2 separate regions of the Homo sapiens genome follow, and region 1 is linked to region 2. Evidence: fine-mapped expression QTL. A gene starts in region 2. The other region holds a variant in brackets. All regions are shown on one strand. Distances are from middle to middle. Region 1 holds the start of CCND3 (cyclin D3). Region 2 holds the start of USP49 (ubiquitin specific peptidase 49).

Evidence for each region.
Region 1: its variant is fine-mapped to the expression of USP49 in whole blood (TOPMed, PIP above 0.99).

Annotation. Positions count from the first base shown.
Region 1 is chr6:41,930,259-41,942,794 of GRCh38, forward strand. It overlaps BYSL (bystin like), which reads left to right. Exons shown (of 7, transcript NM_004053.4): 3 at 1-12; 4 at 377-510; 5 at 1,138-1,298; 6 at 1,470-1,572; 7 at 2,103-2,788. The coding sequence ends at 2,448. It overlaps CCND3 (cyclin D3), which reads right to left and starts at 11,550. Exons shown (of 5, transcript NM_001760.5): 1 at 11,194-11,550; 2 at 10,112-10,327; 3 at 6,977-7,136; 4 at 6,301-6,437; 5 at 4,694-5,849. The coding sequence starts at 11,391. The coding sequence ends at 5,682. RefSeq lists enhancers at 8,021-8,836, 8,837-9,652, 9,233-9,527, 10,609-10,738, 10,781-11,732 and a silencer at 11,249-11,698. The variant C/A (reference allele first, on the strand shown) is at 5,802.
Region 2 is chr6:41,889,365-41,901,900 of GRCh38, forward strand. It overlaps USP49 (ubiquitin specific peptidase 49), which reads right to left and starts at 6,011. Exons shown (of 8, transcript NM_001286554.2): 1 at 5,960-6,011; 2 at 2,430-2,511. RefSeq lists enhancers at 4,770-5,284, 6,219-6,408 and silencers at 5,849-6,088, 5,877-6,169.

The sequences.
Region 1 (12,536 bases), 41 kb after region 2:
GGGGTCCGGGAGGTAAGAGCTGAGAGGGGAGCCATGGTGGAAGACCCCTTTGGGGGCTGTGGGCTCCTGCCACAGGCTTTTTTGCCTTTTGCCTGCATCACATACTAAAGAAGTCATGGGAGTAGAAAACAGACCTAAGAGGCAGAGTGTGTGGGTTCAGATTCCTGCTCTGCCTGTAAATGACTTGGCATCCTTGGGTCGGTTACTGGAACTCTCACTGGTCATCTGTAAAATGAGCATAATAATGGCACCTCCTTATAGGTTATTGTGGGGATGCAATGAGTTAATATATTAAAAGCACCCAGACAAGTTCCTAGCCCACAGCAAGCTTGCCATATGTGGATGACGATGATTGTTTTACCTCCCTCATCCCTAGGTATTATCTAAGTACCGCAGTGGAAAACTGCCCAAGGCATTTAAGATCATCCCTGCACTCTCCAACTGGGAGCAAATCCTCTACGTCACAGAGCCGGAGGCCTGGACTGCAGCTGCCATGTACCAGGCCACCAGGTAGAGTAGCTGGGGGTTCGGGGGCCTTGGGTTTATAGGTGCAGGCTGAGTTTGGGACGGACAGGCTTTCCTTGCCTCTGGCCCCAGGGCATTTGAGCTTTGCCCCAGGGCCCTCTCTGTGCTACTTTATAGCATCATTTTTCTAGCTTTTCCTGTGTCATTTTTTGGGGCCAAGACCCAGTTAGCCAGTTAGGAACCCTCCGTGATGAATTTCTAGGGGAGAGGCTTTTATAGCTACTGGGATACAACCCTCTGTGATGAATTTCTAGGGGAGAGGCTTTTATAGCCACTGGGATACAACCCTGTAGCAGGACCCTCAGAAGTCTGTGACTGCCCAGGCATGCTCAGGGCTACTCAACTGATGCTGAGTAGCCATCAGTTTGCACGAGCTCTGGCTCTCCCACAGACAAACGGTGCTCCTCATTTGGGTATATCTCATTGCCCCTCCTATTCTCTCTCTAAGCTGATGGGTGTTGCATGCACACAGCTCCCACACATCCCCCACTGAAAGAAAGGTCCCATATTTTACTTTAAAACCTCTTGTATGCACTATCCATGGTGATATTTAATGGGCCGGGTCCAGACTGTCGTGTGAGTTGGAAACTTCCCCCGCTTAACTCCCACTAGGATTTTTGCCTCTAACCTGAAGGAACGCATGGCCCAGCGCTTCTACAACCTTGTCCTGCTCCCTCGAGTACGAGATGACGTTGCTGAATACAAACGACTCAACTTCCATCTCTACATGGCTCTCAAGAAGGCCCTTTTCAAACCTGGAGCCTGGTTCAAAGGTGGGATCCCAGAGGCACGGAAGAAAGGGAAGGGCTGGAGCTTCTATGGGGAACACAGCAGGCCTGGTGTGGGAAATTGCTAGCTGTCCCTGGGCTGGGTGGGAATGCTTCCTGCTGTAACTCCTTTTTCTCATCCTGGGCTCACAGTGGCTGCCCTTTGACTCTCCCTAGGGATCCTGATTCCACTGTGCGAGTCTGGCACTTGTACCCTCCGGGAAGCCATCATTGTGGGTAGCATCATCACCAAGTGCTCCATCCCTGTGTTGCACTCCAGGTAGTATTGCTGGGGGTGGAAGGGGGCTGGTCAGTGGATATCCAGATAGTGGAATTGCCAGGACTTGGGAATGGGCAGAGTGGAGAAGGAGCTAAGGAAAGCCTTGGGTTTGTGCTTGTTTAAGCCAATGAGTAGGTGTATCATTATCCCCCTCAATGTAAGTTGTGCAACAACAGGGCCCGAGTGCCTGGCATAAAGTAAGTTCTCAGTAAATAGATAAACAAATGAGTAGGAAACACAGGAAGAAAGTAGTTAGGGTGGAGACGTTGAGATGTTTGGACCATACTCTAGTTGGTTACTGAAACAAGCAGTCTATGCTAGAGATAGAGATTTGGGTGGATCCCTGTAGAGATGGTGACTGAGGTCAAGGGAGTATAATATGATTGTGTAGGTGAGAAGGTCCCTGGGGAATACCATAGTGTAAGGGCCAGCAGAGGGGAAGAAAAAAAGGGGAAAGCATAGAGGGAGAAGTAGGATCCTTCTTCCAATGTTTTCCCTGCTTACTCTACCCCACCTCCCTTTCCCACTAGTGCGGCCATGCTGAAAATTGCTGAGATGGAATACAGCGGTGCCAACAGCATCTTCCTGCGACTGCTGCTGGATAAGAAGTATGCACTGCCTTACCGGGTGCTGGATGCCCTAGTCTTCCACTTCCTGGGGTTCCGGACAGAGAAGCGTGAACTGCCTGTGCTGTGGCACCAGTGCCTCCTGACTTTGGTCCAGCGCTACAAGGCCGACTTGGCCACAGACCAGAAAGAGGCCCTCTTAGAACTGCTCCGGCTGCAGCCCCATCCACAGCTATCGCCCGAAATCAGGCGTGAGCTTCAGAGTGCAGTCCCCCGCGATGTGGAAGATGTTCCCATCACCGTGGAGTGAGGAAAACAGTCAGCTGTCCTGGCCAAAGGGGTTTGGAAGGACACCAAGACCCCCGTTGGTGACTGAAGATGACACTGAGCTTTAATGGCTGAAGACCCAGATCAGGGCAGTGACAGATCACAGGGACATCTGTGGCTCCCAGTCCAGGACAGGAAGGACTGAGGGTCTGGCTGGTTCCCTCTTCCATTCTAGGCCCTTATCCCTGTTTAGTTCTGAGAGCCAACTTGAGATACCATATGCTAGCATTCCCAGTCCCCAGCTGGGGCTTGGTGTGAGTACTTTTTCTATGGCTATTGTGTCAGGTCACTGTGGATAAAGGCAAAGACAGATATTTATTGAACCTCTGTGTTTGGTGTAGTCAATGGAGGTAGGCATTACTCCTGTTAGTATTTGGAGGACGGAGGACATTCTTGTCCTGTTTATATAGGACCCACCTCCCTTGATCTCCAAGCTTGTTTCTCCAGGCTGCACTCACCTTGTTAGCCCCCAGGGGACACATCCTCTGCCTTCCCCCATCACAGGCTACAGCAGCCAGGAGCAGGTTGTCCAAAGATGGTCGTGTCTCAGCAGTGGATGAAAGGACTACAAGAGAAAACTCCTTGGGGAAAGCAGAGATAAGAGTCAAGAAAGGCCAGAGAGGCTGGGCTTGGTGGCTCACGCCTGTAATCCCAGCACTTTGGGAGGCTGAGGTAGGTGGATTACCTGAGTTCAGGAGTTCGAGACCAGCCTGGCCAACATGGTGAAACCCCTTCTCTACTAAAAATACAAAAATTAGCTGGGTGTGGTGGCGTGTGCTTGTAATCCCAGCTACTTGGGAGGCTGAGGCAGGAGAATCGCTTCAACCTGGGAGGTGGAGGTTGCGGTGATCCAGGATTGGGGCCACTACACTCCAGCCTGGGCCACGGAGCAAGACTGTCTCAAAAAAAAAAAAAAAAGGCCAGAGAATAAGGCTGGGCCCAAGAATGGTTAGATCAGAGCTAGCATCAAACAGGCTCCCTTTCTGGCTTTTCAGCCAATGAAAGCTTTAGACTAGTGACTAGTAAACTAGGGCCAGGTGCCCCTTTTTTTGTTGATTTGTTTTTTGAGACGGAGTCTCGCTCTGTCGCCCAGGCTGGAGTACAGTGGCATGATCTCGGCTCGCTGCAACCTCCGCCTCCATGGTTCAAGAGATTCTCCTGCCTCAGCCTCCTGAGTAGCTGGGACTACAGGTGCGTGCCACCACGCCTGGCTAATTTTTGTATTTTTAGTAGAGACGGGGTGGAGAAGGGGTTTCACCAGGTTGGCCAGGCTGGTCTCAAACTCCTGACCTCAGGTGATCCACCCGCCTCGGCCTCCCAAAGTGCTGGGATTACAGGCATGAGCCACTGCACCCAGCCCAAGTGCCCATTTTTGTGTGGCCCATGAGCTAAGAATGATTTTTCCATTTTTAAATGGGGAAAAAATTAAAACAGTATTTTGTGATAGGTAGGAATTACATGAAATTCCAGTTTCAGCATCCATAAATAGTTTTGTTGGAACAGCCATGCTCACCCATTTACATGTTTTCTGTGGCTGGTTTTGTGCTACAACAGCAGAGTTTAAGTATAATCCTGCTATAACCCTTGTTATTTGCTTTCGAAATTGCGCATTTGTTCCAACCCATTTAATATATTTGGGAACAGTTTGATCATAACGCAGACTTCATGTTTGCTTGTGTGTGATTTCATCCTCGAGAAATAGTAGGTGAATATGGGAAACTGTATCTAGCTGAACCAAGCCTAAGTAGTACACAAAACTCACACCTAAACATGTACCAGCTACCTCACTCATCTCCCCACCTGTGTTGAGCAACCCTTCCGACGTCCACTTCCAAAAGCAAAGTGCATGTCTTCAAGATAAAAGGCCATATTTATTGTGATATAATTTCTCAACCATTTGACATATGTAAAAACCAAGCTATCCTTTTTTTTTAAATGTGTCACTCATTTGAGTGTTGTGCTTCAAGCCCCATTTTTCCCATGAGACCTGTGGTCTTTATTGTGCAATTTTGCATGGCATAGTGATTTTTAGGAACGCATAGGTCACATTATAAAGCAGAACTGACTATATTTGGGTCAGAGACCATGTACCCCACAAAGCCTAAATATCCAGCCCTTTACAGAAAAGGCTCAATGATCCCTGCTTTAGACCATTGACTTCCACCTCCTTACCTCATACAGTGCAGAAATAGACTTACCCACACACCAATCCAAGAAGCCAAAGCCAGTTTTATTTCACAATCATCTTTATTACAGTAGGATGATGGTCCTGGGCCACCAGCCTAAACCTTGCAGCCTTAGGAAAGACCTGTGTCAACAGGGCTTGCCTCCCTCTCTAGACAGGGGCTCAGCCACCTCCAGGGCATCCCTGCTGCATTTTCCCTGCTGGAGGATGGGGCAGAGGGACAATGGGAGAGGAGGGCATGACCCCACCCCAGGCTATAGCAGCTCCTTGGCCACAAAGATCCTTTTGCCAGTAGCAGAAGGGAGGAAAACAGCAACCACCAGGGTTACCACCACTTGTGGGATGGCCAGGACCCCATTATGTCCTCTTAAAGTTGTGCTCAAAGCAATTAATAAATTAAAATGAGCCTTCAGCAGCAAAGCTGTCAATCACACAGGAGAAGCTGAGCAGAAAGCAAAGCAAAGAGGAATTTATAGCTTCTCTGGCTGAGGCCTAGGCCCCTCCCTCTAGGAGCAGCTGTCAGCACGGACTACATAGGGGCCTCCAAAGTACTGAGAGGAGCCATCTAGACTATTCCCCCTCATATGTGTCTATCATGCATTAAATTTTAGAGGGACCCCAATCCAAATGCAATAACCCTAGAAGGGACAACACCTTTAGAAGGCACTAGAGCATTTTGGCAGTTGAAAACATGAGAGCCCCCAGGGGTGGGGGGGGGCGTTCAAAAGGAATGCTGGTGTATGTATCCAATTCTGTCCCATCAGCCTGGCCCACCCCCAGCTAGAGTTGGGAAAGGCGCTGCTGGTCAGATGCAGGGAGGAGGAGCTTGACTAGCCACCGAAATGCAGACATGGCTGGCCGGGCCCCTTAGTGCACACTGCGGGGATGGGTAGGACCAGATCCCTTGGGCTTTGTGAAGGGGGAACAGACGCCCCTTCAGGCTTAGATGTGGTGTGGTTCCTGGAGGCAGGGAGGTGGGTGGCAGCGGCCCCTCCTCTGCTTAGTGGCCACTCCAGAGGGCCTCTCCAGGGCTACAGGTGTATGGCTGTGACATCTGTAGGAGTGCTGGTCTGGCTGGGCCCTTGGCTGCTGGAGCCCCGGGGGGCTTTGGGCGCTGGGCTGGAGCTGGTCTGAGAGGCTTCCCTGAGGCT[C/A]TCCCTGAGTGCAGCTTCGATCTGCTCCTGACAGGCCCGCAGGCAGTCCTGGGAACATGGGAGAAGAGTGAGGAGCAAACACTCCCCCCATAGCATCTGGCAGCAGGTGCAGGGGAAGGACAGCTCCCAACACATGGGGAAGTCTGGGGAGGTTAGGCCACAGCCCGGCCCCAGGAATCGCTCTTTAGTTCTCAGAAACTAGCAAGAGGATGTGGCAAGGGAGTGTGAGAGCAGCCCTGCATCTGACACCAAACCCCCCACCCCCACTCCAGCACACCACTTGGCAAGAAAAGAACCCCTAGGGCCAGTGCCCTTCACCCCACCCAAGATACTTGCTCTTCCCCAGACCAAGGCAGGAGATAAAAAGCCACAAAGCCCCAAGGTTGTGAAACCAGGACTTGGGACCAGGTTGGGGTTGGAGGTTTCCCTCTACTGGAGGCTCAGGGCATAGCACTACTTTATGAATGGAGAGGCTGCTGCCCAGCTACCCAGCACTCACCACTTCAGTGCCAGTGATCCCTGCCAGCAGCTCTGTGAGCTCATCCCCGGACATGGAGCAGGCACCCAGGCCTTGCACTGCAGCCCCAATGCTGCCCGTGGCGATCATGGATGGCGGGTACATGGCAAAGGTATAATCTTGGAGAGGAGGAAAGGGAACCATGAGAGAAGGAAACCTGAAGGATAACGGCCAGCATGGACTTCCGACTCCTTGGAAAGTGCCAGGCAGCATGAGTAGAGCAGAGGACATGCTGGAAAACTCCAGCAGTGGGTGGGGCAAGATATCAGCAAGGGAGGAAGACAGGAAAGAGTATCTTTCCTAGAGATCAGAACCAACTGCCAGTTTCCATAGGTCCCGGGAATAGACAAGACACTCCCTAGTATGGGAACACAACTAGGGCCAAGAGACTGGGGTTCTGTTCCCAACCTGTTCACTGTGAGACCTTGGGCAAGTCACTTCTCTCTATACCCTCAGTGTCCCCACTACAAACTGGAGGGGTCTGAGATCCCATATAGCTGATTATAACCTGCTTTTCTGCATTGAGACTGGGGGCTCAGAGGGGGTATAATTTTCACAAAGGAATTTTGACAGTATAAACCAGAATCTTCAGTTACCTCTCACCCTTATAAGTCTTCTGATTTTTCCAATTTGGCAAAAATGTGCATAGGGCTCTTACCTGTAGCACAGAGGGCCAAAAAGGTCTGGGCATGCTTTTTGACCAAGGCCTGTCGGTCACGGGGCAGAGAGAGCCGGTGCAGAATGAAGGCCAGGAAATCATGTGCAATCACAGCAGCCAGGTCCCACTTGAGCTTCCCTAGGACCAGCACCTCCCAGTCCTGAAAAAGCGGGGAAAGGGTGGGGTCAGTGGCTGGAGAAGTGAAGAGGAGGGAGCAAAGCAGAAGTCTCAAAGTCTCAGGCAGGGAAGCCCATCAAACTTTTAAAGCCCAAGACCCCAGTTCTGTTTCTGATTTTAAGGCCGGGCACCATGGAGTTCAAGGCAGGGAAGAGGAGGAGGCATGTGCTTTGAGCACTTACTGATCATTTACTAGGTGCCAGGACAACATGCTTTACATGGATTATCCCTTTTAATCCTGTCTGGTTATGTTTAAGGGGCCAATAATCCAGGCCTTCTCCTGACTTCATTCAGGGCTCTGAGGATTTCTCCAGCCAGGGCTGAAAGACGGAAGCAGCAGATACCACAGCATCACCATGAACTGGGCTCTCTTCTGGGATGAAGCAGAAAGACTCTCTCAACCCCAAGGATTTGTGAAAGGGGAGATCACCACTAGCTTCCCCTGCAACTCTGCATCCCAGCCAAGTCCACACTTCTTGAATCAACAGAAGGGAGTATGACTCCTCCAATGACAGCCACAGAGCCTTTTCTCAGGTTCCTCAAAGGGGAGATTGCCCAACCCAAGCCACATCCCCTTGGTAGGATATCAGGGATGGGTCCTGAGGTATAGCACCCCACCCCACCCCCTTTAGCTGGAACCCGTAGTGCCCCATGCCACTTGACTTTCAGGAGGATAGGTAGAGGCCAAGCCAGACAGGATGGCTCCAAATGATTCCAGAGGGATCAAGCCCTATCCTCACCTACCCAAGCCTACCTGCCAGTACTAGGTCTCGGGAGAAGGCTGGGAGCTCCACCCCAGTCCACTCGTCATGGGTTCCCAGACCTGGCCCCATTTCTGAGTTGCACACATGAGGATTTCTTCATTGTTTTATCTCAGGAAGGAACTTGTGGGTTTGACTCCTTATTGAGGCAGAAATGGCAACCCCACCCAACCTCTTCCAGGCCCCAGCCACAGCTGTCTCTCTCTTGGCCCCAGCTTAGGTGTCAGCCTCTCAAATCAACCCCTACCCTCACAGAGCCCCAGAGAAAATAGCCTGGCCTGGAGCCAGAAGTGAGACAGATAAATTACAACGCTACCCCTAGTGCATGTCCCAGGAGCCAACTCCTAACTCAGCAGTAAACAGAAGGGACTCAGCTTCTAAGGAAGCATCTGGAAGGCAACTGGGAGTGGGACTCTCCCTATGGGGAGGCAAGGGGTTGTGTTTGAGGGAAAGTGGCCACCTTTCCCCATATCCAGGCAACCAGAGAATCCCAGTGTTAACTGGTGGAGAACACACCCCTGGGAGTGCTTAGCTTCAGTAGGTGGCAGCGGCCATCACATTCCTGACTTTTAAGGCAACCTGGTCTAGCTAGAAGACCCAGGTTCTACACTCATCTGCTCAGTGCGATGCTGAGGCAGGACCTTGCCCTCCTTCCTTGGGCCTCAGCCTCCTCTGCTGCACACGGATTTGGACCAACTGGAGTTCTCAGAGGTCCCTTCCAACCTTGACCTTCTAGGAAGTCTTTTGGGCACTCCACCCCCAGCTCAGGCAGAGGGAAGAGTACTTTTTGCCTGTACTGAAAAACCCTCATACGTGGGCACACAAACCACCTCCATCTTTTCACAAAAAGGAAGTTCCCCTTCTACCTTCCAGCCCCAACCCCTCCAAAAACATCTTGCTCTCTGGCCCTGGAAACTAGCTCCACCTTCAGACTTGCCAAAAACTACCAGATTCATCACAAAGAGCTGTGGCGCCTCCTGGATTCCCAACTCTGGCCTCCTACTCCCATCTCTGAGCTACTTGGCAGGAAGAGGAATCCTGTTCCTCGACTCACAGCAGTCGGGGGCCCCAGTACCCTGGCTTCCCTGCCAGCCAATCACAGCAGCCTGCTTGCTGCCCTCCTCCCTGGGAGATGGGGCCCAGAGACTCCTCTCAGGGTCAGCAGAAGACTTGGCCCGCCACAGAGCAAGGTGGAGGAAGGTGCCAGCTCACCCACCCTCTCCCCCAGCCTCCCTAGGAGACAATCTGCATGTCCTAAATAACCTCTTCCAGATCCAGCAGCTCCCCCGCCTCCTCCCCAGGCTCCTTCTGAGGCGGGACAGAACCGGTGACTTTCCTGCCCGGCCTGAGCCCAGCCCAAGTTTCCAGCAAGAGGCCCAGGGAGCCACTTCCCAAACCACAGGAGTGACAGCAGCTCCCCACAGGGTTATGAAAGACCTTGGTCAGAGAGGGCGGGCCAGGGGAGGGGGCACCATTATCACATCGGAAGCAGATGCAGCTCACCTCCCTGTCTGTCCCTCAGCTTGGGCCTTGGGCTAAGGGGGGAAGAGGGAGCTGTTTCCACCAGGCCCAAAGCAGCTGCTCCAGTTCCTCAGAATGAGGACGAGGAAGGATTAGGAAGAAGCTGTTTCTTCCGGGATATAAGAGGAAGCAAAGAAGGTGGGATGAAATACATCAGCCCTTCCTTAAAGCAATCAGGGCCTGGCTTTAATTGGCTCTGGGAGGCTTTTCTATCACAAAGTCCACATGAGGATAAAGACTCAACCAAGGCAAAACCCCCTCCCCCACATGAAGCACATTCCACTCCCCTACTCCAGTGGGGGTGTGCAGGCATGCCCTTCTGCTGCCAATAAATAACTCATGGTGGCTGCGTAAACCCAGAGGCAAAGTACTAGTGAGTGTAGACATGCAATTTGACTTGTTGCTATCTGGGGGAAAGACCAGGAAGGAGTGGCATCCCCTGGAGGTCAGGAGGAGGGGGTTTAATGCCTGCCTGCAGCTCAAGCCTGGGCGGGAGTGATACTAACCATCACACCACAATGCCCCATCGTTTGTTCCACCCCAATTCCTTTCCCAAAGGTCCTGATCCCCTTGCTTCCTCTCCAGGGGGCAGAAAGCCTCTGATATCTCAAGCTTTCCTTTTCCTGGAAAGTGGGGAGACAATACGTGTCGGGGGTGGGGGGAGTTACACACGCACCCGCAACTGGCGGGGAGAGACAGCGTGGTCGGTGTAGATGCACAGTTTTTCGATGGTCAGGGGCGTGGTCTCGCGCAGCTTGGAGGCCAGCAGCATGCAGACCGCACCCAGGAGCTGCAACTGCGCCTTTCGGGTGGGGACGCAAGACAGGTAGCGATCCAGGTAGTTCATGGCCAGGGGGAAGACTTCCTCCTCACAGCGCTGCTCCTCACATACCTGGGGGAGGGCGCACAGTCACTGCTGGGTCTGGAGCGTGGGGAACACAGCAGCGGGGGGGTGGGAGCGCTGAAGTGAGGTGGGATAGGGAGCAAAAACGGCAGAGAGGGTAAGCTACTTAGAGAGACAAGGACCAATAAAGGAGGAGGATGCGCCCTCCCCAAGGTGACGCCCCCCACTTCCTCTGCGCGGCCTCCTCCCCTCTCCCCTTGACGGGGGAGTGGTAAAGCCAAGGAGCCCTTGCTCACGGAGGATTCCAAACGGAGACTCCCCTCCCCCACAGCGAGGGGAAGTGGGACGCAAGGGTCACCCATGGTAGCCAGAGAGCTGGGACCTCACCCCCATCACCGCCACCACTGCACACACCCGAGGGGAAGGGAGGAGGCTCCTGCCGCTGCCTCCTGCACTTTTCATTTCCCTGTCGGCCGGAACAGGGCGCGCGCCACCCCCATCGCCTTCCCCGCCAGAACCCCGCGAAAGACACAGGAACCGGCTCCCGGGCGGGGGCGGCCGAGCCCAGGGTTTTCCAGGCGCGCTCTCCGGAGAAGGCCGGGAGGCGGAGGGAAGCGGGAGACGCTGTGAGAAGCCGAAGGGGAGAGAGTGTCCTTGGTCCCGTTTGCTCGGCCCGAAGAGAGGCACAGTTAGGGTGCCAAGTGACTGGCAGTCACTGTCGGGAGGAGCCGATTAGGGCTCGGGAAAGCAAGGGAGGCAGCTGGCGTGGGTGCCCTAGTGAAAGGCCAGGCCCCGGGAGTCTTAGCCTCGGAGCATCCTGCAGATTGCTGTGGGGACCGGGATGTCCCGACAGGGCGGCCCCGGTGTGTCCAGACCCGGGAGCGGTGGGGGAGGGGGACGCGTCCGGGCGGTACCTCCAGCATCCAGTAAGCCAGCATCTTCCGCATGTGCGGCTTGATCTCCCGCTGCACGCACTGGAAGTAGGAGGCGCGGGGTACGTAGCGCTCCTCCAGGCGGAGCAGGCTCTGCAGGACACGCTGGTCCCCCAGCAGCCGCGGGTCCGGCCCGGCCCGGGGCGCGTGCCGGGTGCCTTCGCAACACAGCAGCTCCATACTCGGGCAGCGAACAGGCAGGGCGGGAGTGCGGGCTCGCGAGTCCCAAGGCAGGCGACGGGCCGGAGAGCGCGGGGCGCGGGTCTGGCGCTGGCGCTGGCACTGCGCGGCGGATCCCCAGCCCGCCCGCCGCCCGCGCGCGCGCGCCGCTTCCCTGACAGGCGCCCCGCCCCTCGCGACGATGTAGCAACCGTGGAATGCTCGGACGTCGCAACGCTCCGAGGGGCGGGGCTGCGGCGCCCCGGACGGAAAGGGTTGGCTGAGCGCTCTCCCCTCCCTCCCGCGGCCCCATTGGGCCGCTGAGCGCAAGCCGGCCGGCTTCCGGGCACTCCAGGCCCTCTGGACCACCGGGTGCAGAGAACTTTCTAGGAGGTGGGCCTCCTACCCACCCACGGGCCCTCCCATTTTGCTTCTCGGACTCTAGTCACCCAGGAAACAATTTTTCTCCAAAGGTCATTCATTCACTTATTCATTCGTCAAACCCTACTTCACCGGCTGCTTGCTCTAAGGAATGCGATAAATAATGTCAGAGCTAGTTCTTAGTGAACGCTGCTCGAAAGCCTCACGATGTAATGACTCACTACATCTTCACGAAAACTCGGAAACCGAGGCAACTGTCATTCAGTTGGTCCGTGGCAGAGCTAGGATTGGGAAGCTGGCCTTCTTGCTGCAGATTCTGTGTTCTACACCATTGCTAGTTAAACTGTGATCCCAGACCTGTCCCGTGCGTGGTCATCGCCTGGGAGCTGGTTAGAAATGCAGACTCTCAGGCCCACCCCTAACCTGAATCAGAATCTGCATTTTAACTAGATTTCTGTGCACTTTAAAGTATGAGAGCTTTAGTCTAAGTCAGCATATAACAGAACGGAAAGGCCATGGAGTCATGGCCTCACCTTGTTAAGTTGCTTGCCTAGGTTTGGACAAGCCCCTAAAGTCGGCCTTAGTTTCTGTTTGGAGAAACTGTGGACGGAGAAACTAGATTCTCATTGAATCAGTTTCTTGCACAGACTCTGTGAGATCTACCGGTTGCATTTCTTCCACCTCCCAAACTTTTGGTTACTTTGTAGTTTTACCGGAAGCTAGATTCCACTTGACGAAGAGGCCGAAAAAGACCTCCAATAATGCTCCAAATGGGAGGAGGCCAT
Region 2 (12,536 bases):
TTTGATCTTTTCCAGCTCCTTGAAGCTACATAAGAGTCTTTAAAATATGTATTTCACCTAACTATTTCTTGGTTGTGGTTTTGAAAGGCCCCATGGCTCCTGTTTCTCACAATAATCACCCATACCTCCATAGCTAGCATGTCCTGAGGACACATCCATGCATGAGCACACCATGCCACATGCTAGGGAGGTTCTCAACACATGGGTACACTGTGACACAGTTTTTTCTAATGGGAGAGACCTACAAACCCATCATTCACAAGTGAAAGAATCTCAGAATGTACAGGAGACAAGACCATAAAAACACAAAATCCACTCTAAACCCAATCTTGAGATTCCTTTGCTTCAAGTATTTGACTAAAATTAAACACAAACTAAACTTTTTGAAATACTCAAAACATTCTCCCCTTTTCTTCTTTAAAATTAAGGTCTTCATATGCATTTTCTTCAATTTGACTTGTTTAAAAATACTCAAGTGAGAGAAAATGATAAAGCAAATGGGGCAAAATGAAAAAAATTGGTGAAACTGAGTAAGGGTATACAGAATTTCTTGTATCATTTTTGCAACTTTTCCATATGTTTAAAAAACTGCAATAAAATCAAGAGTCACCAAAAAATAGAGTATTAACAACAGAAGTTCTCTCATAGGGCTGTTTCAAATTTCAAACAATTCACATACTCAGTTAATGCTGGACACCTAGTAAACACTCAGTAATTGTTAATTATTTTTTTTAAATGAGTGGATCAGCTGGGCACGGTGGCTCACGCCTGTAATCCTAGCACTTTGGAGATCACTTGAGGTCAGGAGTTCGAGACCAGCCTGGCCAACAAGGTGAAATCCCGTCTCTACTAAAAATACAAAACCTTGGCTGGATGTGGTGGTGGGTGCCTGTAATCCCAGCTACTAGGGAGGCTGAGGCAGGAGAATCGCTTGAACCTGGGAGGCGGAGGTTGTAGTGAGCCAAGATCATGCCACTGCACTCCAGCCTAAGCTACAGAGCAGTACTCCAACTCAAAAAAAAAAAAACGAGTGGATCAATTTACTTAACCAATTAAAGTATTAGGAGGCCAGGCGCGGTGGCTCACATCTGTAATACCAGCACTTCGGGAGGTTAAGGTGGGCAGATTTTTTGAGCCCAGGAGTTCGAGACAAGCCTGGGCAACATGGTGAAACCTTGTCTCTACAAAAAATACAAAAATTAACCAGGTGTGATGGCACACATCTGTAGTCCCAGAGAGGTCCAGGCTGCAGTGAGCTGACGTGGCGCCACTGCATTCGCCTGGGCAAAAGAGCAAGATTCTGTCTCAATAATAATCATAATAATCATAATAATAATATATGGGGAAATTGGTATATCACTTAGGCACACATAAAGAGAAAATACTAAAAAATTAGTGAGGGTATAAACAGATTTTGCTTATGGATATTTGCACTGAAATCTGAAATCAGAAAAAATCCATTTTTCTTCAAACAGCAATAATCTTTCAACTATAAATGTGTCATAGTATATAACAAGTCCAGGGCAGTTTTCTAGCTAAAAAGGTGGATGGGGAATCTGCAATGCAATAAGGCATTTTTTACTGGTTTGGGTTTGTTTTGTAAATACAATTTTGGAATGAAAAAATAGAAGCATGCAACAACCTTGATGTAATCTTTACATTATACATAATCGTTACGGTGTTTACCCCAGGTTCCTCATCTAGAAAGGAACTGGATAAAAGGTTAGTAACAGGACTACAGGGATAATTTTTAAAGATTGGCAAACAAGACTTGTTAAGTGTTGAATCTGAAGAAGAACTTGGTGAGGGAGAACTTCACAACAGGCAAGCCAGAGGCAAAACCAGAGCACAGACTCTGCTGGCAAAATGCAAAGGCTGGAATCCCATCCCACCACTTGGTAGAATTCTAGCTTTTGAACTAAAATAAAGATTAAATGTATCACTGGGTTACAAAACATAGTATTATTTGTAATATAAGATAATTACCAAATAAATAGTTGTAGGAATGTCTGAGTATAACCTTGGGCAAATCATTTAATCTCAAGGACCCTCTATTTCATCACCTGTAAAATGAGAATAGTAATAGTACCTACCTCACAGGATTGCCATTGAGGAGTAAACAAGTTACAATTTGCAGTGCTTACAGAAGTATCTGGCACAAAAGCATTATATGTGTGTTGGCTACTATTATTAAGTTTATGAAGAACTAAGGTCTTATAAATACAAAAGTACACAGGTATTTTTTACTCAAAAATTGAGAATGGGGCAAGAGGAAACAAACACATATATAGCATTAAACATGTGCTGGTTGGAGAGAAGGCAGACTCTCCTGATAGAGAAATTATTAAATGCTTGCAAAGATTATCTACAGAGGTTACCACATTACTGCTGAAGATTTGTTTTAAAAAATAGGATAAATTTTTATCTACCTGGAATGATTTAAGTGGGATATTGACTGGAGTTGCAGGATAAACTAGAGGTCCTTTCAAGGTCTCTTCCCATCCAAAGAATCTACGGTTAACCAGGAAAACATTTAATTATGTACAGCCTAATAAATCTAAAAATATAAACTTAAAAGCTTTTGCTTAGCAAATAAGATTATAACCAAAATAAAGTTAAATTGGGTAGAACTGTACTTGATGAACAAATGAAAATAAAGCTTAAATTTATCATTGGAGTCCTTATTGATAAATAGTATTATCTCAATTTTTAAAAATCCATTTTCAGTTTTAGAAATAGCGACTGAGAAATAACCATTGACAATGAGACTCAGTGGTTTAGCACACTAAGGCCGTTGCATACAGAAACAAAAGGCAGGACTCACTCTTTCCCTTGGCTGATCTTACAGTTTATATTTCCTTCTTTACCAATATCAAATAAGTCTATAATCACTTATATAAAGATATTGAGCATTAAACAATTACAATTACATTATAAACATGGCAATACCATACAGAGTACGTCCTACTACTAACGCCAGCCCAAACACATCTATAAAAAGAATATGCACACACATCTCACTGAAACAAGTGCCTCATATCAAAGTTATTCTTCATCTTGAAAGTCAACATTATCAAACTAATCCTTTTAAAATGTAGTGGCAAAAATAGTAATTTTTACCAAGATCCTCTGTTAAATTGCTAAATACATCTAGTAACCTTGAACACTTGCTTAATACAATCCAGGAAACAAACCATAAACTAAATACTATGCCACTAACACAGTAGCTGAATGCAGAAAGAGTTTTCTAAATTATACATTAACCATTGTTGCTCAAATCCACAAATCAAAATCTAATCTTTGTTAACTACTACAAAAGTCATAAACCTAATCTTTGTTATTTATACAAACACCAGCAAAAGTGTCAATCCAAAATTTACCCAACTTTGAAAAAAAAAGTATCTTTGTGCATCTGAGTGTACACAATGAAATAACCCCAAAGAAGATTCTCAACAATTGTTTGAATTTTTCCCTAAGTAAATCATATGCTATCCTTTGGCACCATCAAATGCAAAACAAATATTCATTCATATTCTTAGCTAAATGTAAAAGCTTCTGAAAAAAATCATTAAAACAAAATTCTAAGTAAGAATAACCAAATTTTGCCCCAAATTTCTTATCTTCCTTTTCATTTCTAAAGGTGTCTTAAAAATCAAAAGCTTCTAGAAAATTAGTATTAATCTGGCCTTCTTTATTCATAACCATAAAACACGAAAGGCAGTGGAGCTGTCCAAAGACCAAGCTTGCTGCAGTATTATCTTACAGAGATGTTTTTCCATCAAAATTACTCATAAATTTATTTGCCCTAAAAAATAAGTCTGCTACTCTAAAATCCTCCACTACTCTACAATTCTCCCTTTCTTTATGCCATTTTGTTAAATGGGTGAGTTACCAACTACAGCATGAAACGTCCCGCACAAAGCTAAAGGCAGCTCAGGAACTCAAAGCCCTCAGCTCTGATTTAATCTCTCCCCCAGTAAACTTCCTTGGTTGGTTATCTGCCTTTCTCTGAAATGATTTCTTAACATTCTCCAGCAACTGAAAACAATAAGCAGAAATCTGGTTGATTAATCAAAAGAAACAGATTCTCATCTTTCTCTATCCCAACAACAGTGCGTTCTCCATTGAAAATGAAAATGCTGTCCATAAAACACAGCCCAGCACTTGTCAGGTGCAACACTCCTACAACACTAAAACTATCACATCACACGAGTACACCCTAAATAAGCACACCCTTTCCCCGAATTATCACAACACTAGTGAAATGCAGAGGTTTTCAACACCCAGAGTTTATACTTTATCATCCATACAAGAAAAAAATCAAATCAAAATGAGTCTCATTTCTTCAAAGTGGACAGGAAAGTCAAATCAAAAGCAATGAAGGGTGGAAGCAGATTCAAGATTTCTTGAGAGAAAGAGGTTTCTGGAATTTCCTACTTTTAGGGACAAAAGGATTCACAGTTTCAACACACAGTTCTCTCCTCAACAAAGAATTCCTTTCCTGCACCCCCCACCTCTGCCCTTACTTTTTAGTCTTTACCCCTGTCTCTAGGTCCCCTTTCACTCACCATGGTTCCTCGTCTTCTGCACCAAAGGCTCTCTTACACTTGATCTTTCACTACAGCATTTCTGCCCTGACCCTTGCAGACCTTCTGGAGCAACTCCCCATAACACGCACATTCGATTCCCACCCCCCTGCAGTCTACCCCAGTTCTACATCCATCAGGACTCCCCCAGCTTCTCTTAGCCCCCTCTCTTCCCTTACTCCCCATCTCATCCTTTAAATTCTGGGGCCCATCTCTTCCTGCTCCTCTCACCATTTGCTTTTAGCCCTGTCTCTTTACCTCACTGTTTTCACCTTGGATCTTGCTGAACCTCTTCAATTAACGTAATTACCCAGTTATCCTTGTCCCAGATGGCCATCACTTCTTACACCCTAACTCTAGTCTCCTTTCAGCTCTTCTGGTCCCAGAATCGTCCTACAGACACCCATCTCTTATCTGTTTCCTTTCGCCCTTCCACCACACTCTTATTCCTGACTCCACCTGGTTCCAGTCCAGGTCTCATTTGCCCTCCCTCACTTTACAGAATTTACATCCATCGCCCACCCACTAACCCATTCCTTTCTCAGAACCTCGCCAGCAGTTCCCACCACACCGTTGGTCCCAGTCCTTCAGCTCATCTCGCTCCGCACTAGTTCACACCCTCGTCACGTCTGGCTCTTAATCACTCTCTCTTTCCTACTCCCAACTATTACCCCAGCTCTGCCCCTCCTTGTCTTCCACTTCCAACACTTACCCCGGTACCCCTCACCCCAACACCACCCGCTACGAAGATTTCCCCTTCAAACCCCTGCTCTTACACCTAACCCCAGGATCCCTTTCCCCAGCCCTAACCTCATTCCCTGCCCGGCTTCCTTAACGCCCACCCTGGCTTTTGCCTCCTTCCTATCTCCTTGGCTGGCTTTTTCTCACTCCTCCTCTCCCTGGCTTCTAACCCTTTCTCCCCTTAATCCTCCTCATCTCATTCTCAACCCGGTTCCCCTCATCGCCTCCAAGCCTTCCTTTCCCTCTCCCTTCAACGCTTTTGCCCCAACCCAGCCGTCGCCCACCCCGCCAAAATAAGGCGCCCGCGCGCCCCGACTCCCGGCTCTCGCCTCCCGCCGCCCCCGCCCCGGGCGCCCCCAGCCCGCCGGCGCCGCGGTCCCGCCCCCTGCCGCCGCTCCTCCCGCCCGCGAGGCGCGCGCTGCCTTTGTCGCCCCTCACCCGGTGTGTGAGGATTTTGCTTCTTTAAAGGGGAGGGCTAGTGAGCCGGAGACTCCTATCCCCGCCTCCGAGTCTTAGAATGGGCTCCCTGGCCGTCGCGGCCTCCCCGGCCCCCGTTCCCCCTACCCCCTGGAGCTACCCACTTTGCTGCCTCCCCACCTCCTCCGTCCCCTCCCCCGGCCCCCTCTATTTACCGCCATCATCAGCACGCGCGAGCTGTCACCAGGGCGCGAGACAACCGAACACGGCCCCGCCCCCTGCCCGTCTATTGGCCCGCCCGCTGGAGCCCCGCCCCTCAGGCCCTGCATTGCGCCAACGGCGCAGCGCTGGGCCGCGACCCCGGCACCGGCACCCGTTCCGAGGGTTCGCGCCGCAGGCGCAAAGTTTAGGGTCAGCCACAAACGCGCGGCCGCTTTGAGCCTGGCGTAAGGGGCGGCGGCGTAGGGGGACGTTGTGAATAGCTGGTCGAAGTTTGGTTGAAGCACAGGAGGGTAAATAAGAAGGTTTCCAGACAAAGAGACTCTTAAAGGTACAGACTCTTATGTCTGTCCCTCCTCCTTAAAGGGCCAGAGACGCTCCCGAGCCCATCTCCGCCCCCTTCTTCCCGGGGAACTGTAAAGGTATTTTACATGAGTTTCCCATACTCTTTTCGGTTCACCTTTAACACCTCTCCCCACTGCGAAGGACAAAGGCTTTCTCACTATCCCGTCCGTATGTTTTGTTTTATTCTGTTAAAAGACGTTATTTCTGTGTTGTTCCTAAAGCAGCAGCCCTCAAACCGTGGGGTTTCCGGAGGCAGCGTTTGCAAAAGTTACTATTGGCTCCCAGGCGGGTGAGCACGTGTCTGGCTTTTGCCACAGATGACCCAAGAGAGATTCAGCTGTTTTATGGAAATCCCCCACAAGTTAGAGGATCGCTGCCGGAACTGAAGAAGTTCAGCAGATTGTAAGGCTTGGGAAATAAACCAGACTGACTTGGTAGTGGTCCATTGGGAAACAGAACAGCACCTAAGCTACAAAAGGCTTAGGTTAAGCAGTCTCCTAGGTGCACTGTCTTGAAACTACTTGCGGGGTGGTAGTGGGGGGAGGGGATGGGAGTCTCCCAAAATAAGATCAACAATTTCAACACCCAACACATAGCTAAGGCAGATAAAGACTTACATTTAAATATAAGGACAAGTAAAAGAAACAGACATTAGCTATAGTAGTGGCTCAAGTTACACACCTGTAAACAGGAGAACTAGGTAAGCACAAAAAAAAAAAAAAGAACACCACACACAATAGGAAGGGGGAAACTACAATGCCTGGACCAAGCGCTGTGTAGGCAATTTATTAACAACTTGCACTTTTAAAAGAGGTTTGATAGAAGGAGAGGAAGTGGAGTGTTTCAATTTGGTTTGGTCGGGATTTATCATGAGGTTCAAGGCCTCAGAGTTAGATTCAGAATTTAGCTCTCCCTTTGTCGTCCATCACAGTTAACATAATTCTTTTTAAGGAATTCTTAACATTATAACTCTAATTATATGTCTTATTCCCTTACTCAACAATCCCCAAGAAAATTCTTGGAGAAGAAAGATTGTTACTTATTCAATGTTAGTTCCATAACAAGGTGCTTTTGCTGAGTGAAGAATTTGGGAGCCACTTAAAACTTCCAATGGAAGGGATGCTCCCAGAATAGCAATACAGGAGGAAAAGTTTCTCAGTGATGTGAGCATGTATTAGATCAGTGTTCTCAAAAATGTGGCCTGGAGGCCGGGCACGGTGGCTCACGCCTGTAATCCCAGCACTTTGGGAGGCCAAGGCAGGTGGATCATGAGGTCAGGAGATCAAGACCAGCCTGGCCAACATGGTGAAACTCCGTCTCTACTAAAAATACAAAAATTATCCGGACGTGGTGGCGTGTGCCTGTAATCCCAGCTACTCAGGAGGCTGAGGCAGGAGAATTGCTTGAACCAGGGAGTTGGAGGTTGCAGTGAGCTGAGATCGTGCCACAGCACTCCAGCCTGGCAACGGAGTGAGACTCCATCTCAAAAAAAAAAAAAAAAAAAAAAAAGTGTCGCCTGGAAAGGCCTAGGGATCTCTGAGACCCTTTGGGCTGGGGGGATAGTGGGGTGCCTGAGATCAAAACGATTTTCCTAATAATACTGAGACATATCTGCATTGTCACTGTGATGATATTTGCACAATGATACAAAAGTAGCAATGGGTAAAACTGCTGCCTTAGCACAAATCAAGGCAACTGCACCAAGTTGTGCTAGAGGTCAAGGTATTCTTCACTGCTACAGTAAAAAAACACCTGTTTCAGGCCGGATGGGTGCAGTGGCTCACACCTGTAATCCCAACACTTTGGGAGGCCAAGGCAGGTGGATCACTTGAGGTCAGGAATTCGAGACCAGCCTGGCCAACATGGTGAAACCCCTCTCTCTACTAAAAATACAGAAATTAGCTGGGCGTGGTGGCACGCACCTGTAATCCCAGCTACTCGGGAAGCTGAGGCAGGAGAATCACTTGAACCTGGGAGGCAGAGGTTTCAGTGAGCCGAGATCGCACCACTGCACTCCAGCCTAGGCAACAGAGTGCGACACTGTCTCAAAAAAAAAAAAAAAAAAAACCACCTGTTTCATTTAAGAGGTCTTTGATGAAGACAATAAAAATTGTTTTATTTAAGTACACGTTTATGTGATTAAATGCATGTATGTATGCATCAAGCACTTTTAAGTACAACATTTGTCTTGAGGAAAAGCACTCTTGCAATTTGAGTTTGGAGCTGAATTAATAGCTTTCTTCATGGAACACCGTTTTTATTTGAAAGAACAGCTAACAGACTAGTTGTTCACTGGATATTTGGCAGACATGTTCTTAAAAATAAAGTAGAGCCTGATAGCATTGTCGGTTATGATAAAACTCAAGCCTTTATTTTTATTTTTGGAGACGGAGTCTCACTCTGTTACCCAGGCTGGAGTGGAGTGGCGTGATCTCAGCTCACTGCAACCTCTGCCTCCCAGGTTCAAGCAATTCTCCTGCCTCAGCCTCCTGAGTAGCTGGCACCACAGGCACACGCCACTAACGCCCAGCTAATTTTTTGTATTTTAGTAGAGACAGGGTTTCGCCATGTTGCCCAGGCTGGTCTTGAACTCCTGAGCTCAGGCAGTCTGCCCGCCTCAGCTTCCCAAAGTGCTAGGATTACAGGCGTGAGCCACCGCACCCGGCCTGATAAAACTCAAGCATTTAAGTCAAACAGAATTTCTAACAACTGACTTGTATCTCCCAATGTAAGTTTGATAGCTTCCCATGACTTTTTCTAATAAGACTGGTAGTGGGCCAGGCACGGTGGCTCATGCCTGTAATCCCAACACTTTGGGAGGTCAAGGTGGGCAAATCATTTCAGGCCAGGAGTTCGAGACCAGTCTGGCCAACATGGCGAAACCCCATCTCTACTAAAAATAAAAAAATTAGCTGGGCATGGTGGCGCATGCCTGTAATACCAGCTACTCAGGAGGCTGAGACACAAGAATTGCTTGAACCAGGGAGGCAGAGGTTGCAGTGAGCCGAGATCATGGCACTGCCCTCCAGCCTGGGCAACAGAGCAAGACTCTGTCTCACAAAACTAAAATAAGTCCGGGCACGGTGGCTCATGCCTGTAATCCTGGCACTTTGGGAGGCCGAGGTGAGCGGATTGCCTGAGCTCAGGAGTTCAAGACCAGCCTGCGCAACACAGTGAAACCCCATCTCTACTCAAAATACAAAAAAAATTAGCTGGGTATGGCGGCATGTGCCTTAGTCCCAGCTACCCGGGAGGCTGAGGCAGGAGAATTGCTTGAACCTGGGAGGCGGAGCTTGCAGTGAGCCGAGATGGTGCCACTGCACTCCAGCCTGGGCGACAGAACGAGACTCCATCTCAAAAAATAAAATAAAATAAAATAAAAATAAAAATAAATAAATATGATTTTTTGATACTGTATAATGTGTCAACATTTAGGAGATGTGCAGTGTTTTCCAAATGACCAATGCATGACACTACAAAATCACACATTAGTAAAAGATCCATTCAAAGTGCAAAATAAGGCCAGGTGCAGTGGCTCACGCCTGTAATCCTGGCACTTTGAAAGGCTGAGGCAGGTGGATCACTTGAGCCCAGGAGTTCGAGACTAGCCTGGGCAATATAGCGAGACCCCCATCCCTAAAAAGAAAAAAAAAAAGTGCAAAATAAACCAATAAATATTAATGGAATATAAAAAGTTCACTAATATACTTTGAGGTTCCACATTGCAACTAACCTTTAGCAGAGTTTTGATAGCATCAAAGAATATCCACAATTATCTGAAAAAGTTATGAATATATTTCTCCCTTTTTCCAAATACACATCTGTGGGAGGCTGAATTTTCTTCATATTCTTCAACCAAAATAACATTGAAACAGACTGAATGCAAAAGCAGATATGAGTATTTCACAGTCTTCTATTATGCCAGACATTCAAAAGATTTATGAAAATTAAAAACAATGCTACTCTTCTCAAGAAATTTTGTTTGGAAAAATAATTACTTTTCCTTAAAAATATTTTATCAGCCAGGCACAGTGGCTCATGCCTGTTATCCCAGCACTTTGGGAAGCCAAGGTGGGAAGATCGCTTGAGCTTAGGAAGTTTGAGACCAAGCCTGGACAACATAGCAACACCTCATCTCTACTAAAAATAAATTAGCCAGATATGGCAGTGGGCACAGGTAGTTCCAGCTACTCAGGAGGATGAGGTGGGAGGACTGCTTGAGCCTGGGAGATGGAGGCTGTAGTGAGCTATGATCATGCCACTGCATTCCAGCCTGGGCAACAGACCAAGACCCCATCTCAAAAAAAAAAAAATTAAATAAATATATATATATATATATATTTTGGCCAGGAGCAGTAGCTCACGCCTGTAATCCCTGCACTTTGGGAGGCCATGGTGGGTAGAACACCTGAGGTCATATGGTGGCGGGCACCTGTAATCCCAGCTACTCGGGAGGCTGAGGCACAAGAATTGCTTGAACCTGGGAGCCGGAGGTTGCAGTGAGCCAAGATTGTACCACTGTACTCCAGCCTAGGCCATAGAGTGAGACTCTGTCTCAAAAAAAAAAAAAATTATTTATGTTAACATGTGATGGGCTTACTGTTACCTTTAAGCAAATTAATAAATACTTAGGCCAGGCATGGTGGCTCACACCTATGATCCCAACACTGGGAGGCCGAGGATCACTTTAGCCCAGGAGTTTGAGACCAGCCTGGGAAACACAGCGTGACTCTGTCTTAAAAAATAAAAAATTATAGAAAATTAAAAGACATGAGAGCAGAGATAGCATCTTCTTGCCTACAAAACATTCTTCATATGTATTTTCCTTTGAGCCTCTCAACAACTCTATGAAATATGGAAAGCAGGCATCATTATTCCCACTGTACAGATGAGACTCAGAGACAACAGCTTGATTGAAGTTACGTGGCAAGTTAGGGCCAGTGCTATGGCTAGCACTCAGCCATCTGTCTCTTAAAGACGCATTCTCTTCCCTTGAGCAGGCCACCCCAGAATACCCGTCACCTTCACATTCACAGCCTTGCCTTTCCTACATGACAAAAGACTTCTACTCTTGAATTCTGACTTCAGGACAATCTAGGCTACATAAATGTGGTCCCTAAACTCTCTTTTTAAAAGTCTCCGAAGAAGATTCAGTTGAATTCATATTAATCTTAAAAATTAATCTGTGCTATCTGATGGTGGGGCAGGGGTCTATGTTGGGAAATTAAACAGAGAATGCAAGAGAATTAGGAAACTTTGCCCTAATCATTTCAATAATTTTTTAACTTGATAATTTCATCACAGAGGAAAGGAACTATTTCTCTGCCTCATCAATCACGTTTTTCTGAAAAATGAAGAAGTATATGCATTATGCCAAATTCCATTACAACAGAATACTTGCCAGACCCCATGGAGTGTCATAACAGAAGAGTAACTCTGAAGCCACAGAGGTAGCTATCAAGATTGCTTCATATATATTTACTCCTGCCTATTTTCAAAAGAAAAAGGGGAAACATAGGAAGATAGCAAAAACTCAGTCCATCTTCCCAGAAACTGTCTGAAAGGCCCAAAGGATTGGCTATAAAATGAAGAAGGAAAATCCTCTGGCTTGACACCCAGATGTAAGGTCCAGAAGGCAGGGAAAGATCCTGCTCACAAAAGCTGGCTGGACCAGTCTCAAACCTGCTTAACTTTGTCCTCATACTGTTTCCATTTCAGGATTTGCTCTCCCTTTAGAGACTCTTTTTTGGATCACAGATTCTTTTTCTTTTTTTTTTTGAGACAGAGTCTCACTCTGTCACCCAGGCTGGAGTACGGTGGCAAGATCTCGTCTCACTGCAACCTCCACCTCCCAGGTTCAAGTGATCCATTCTTCTGCCACAGCCTCCCAAGTAGCTGGGATTACAGGAATGCGCCACCACGCCCAGCTAATTTTGTATTTTTAGTAGAGATGGGGTTTCACCATGTTAGTCAAGCTGGTTTTGAACTCCTGACCTCAGGTGATCTGTCCACCTCAGCTTCCCAAAGTGCTGGTATTACAGGTGTGAGCGACCACGCCTGGCCGAGATGTAAGTATTGAATGATGGTCAAGCTAGGTGATTTAAAGAGTTGTTCTAACCAAAAAGACTGATTTGGGAATGCTCTACACAATCATAGTGACTCATCTTGGAGAGATCCCACCCCCAAGAAGTGAGTACTCACAAGCCAAAGACACCAAATTCTCAGGGG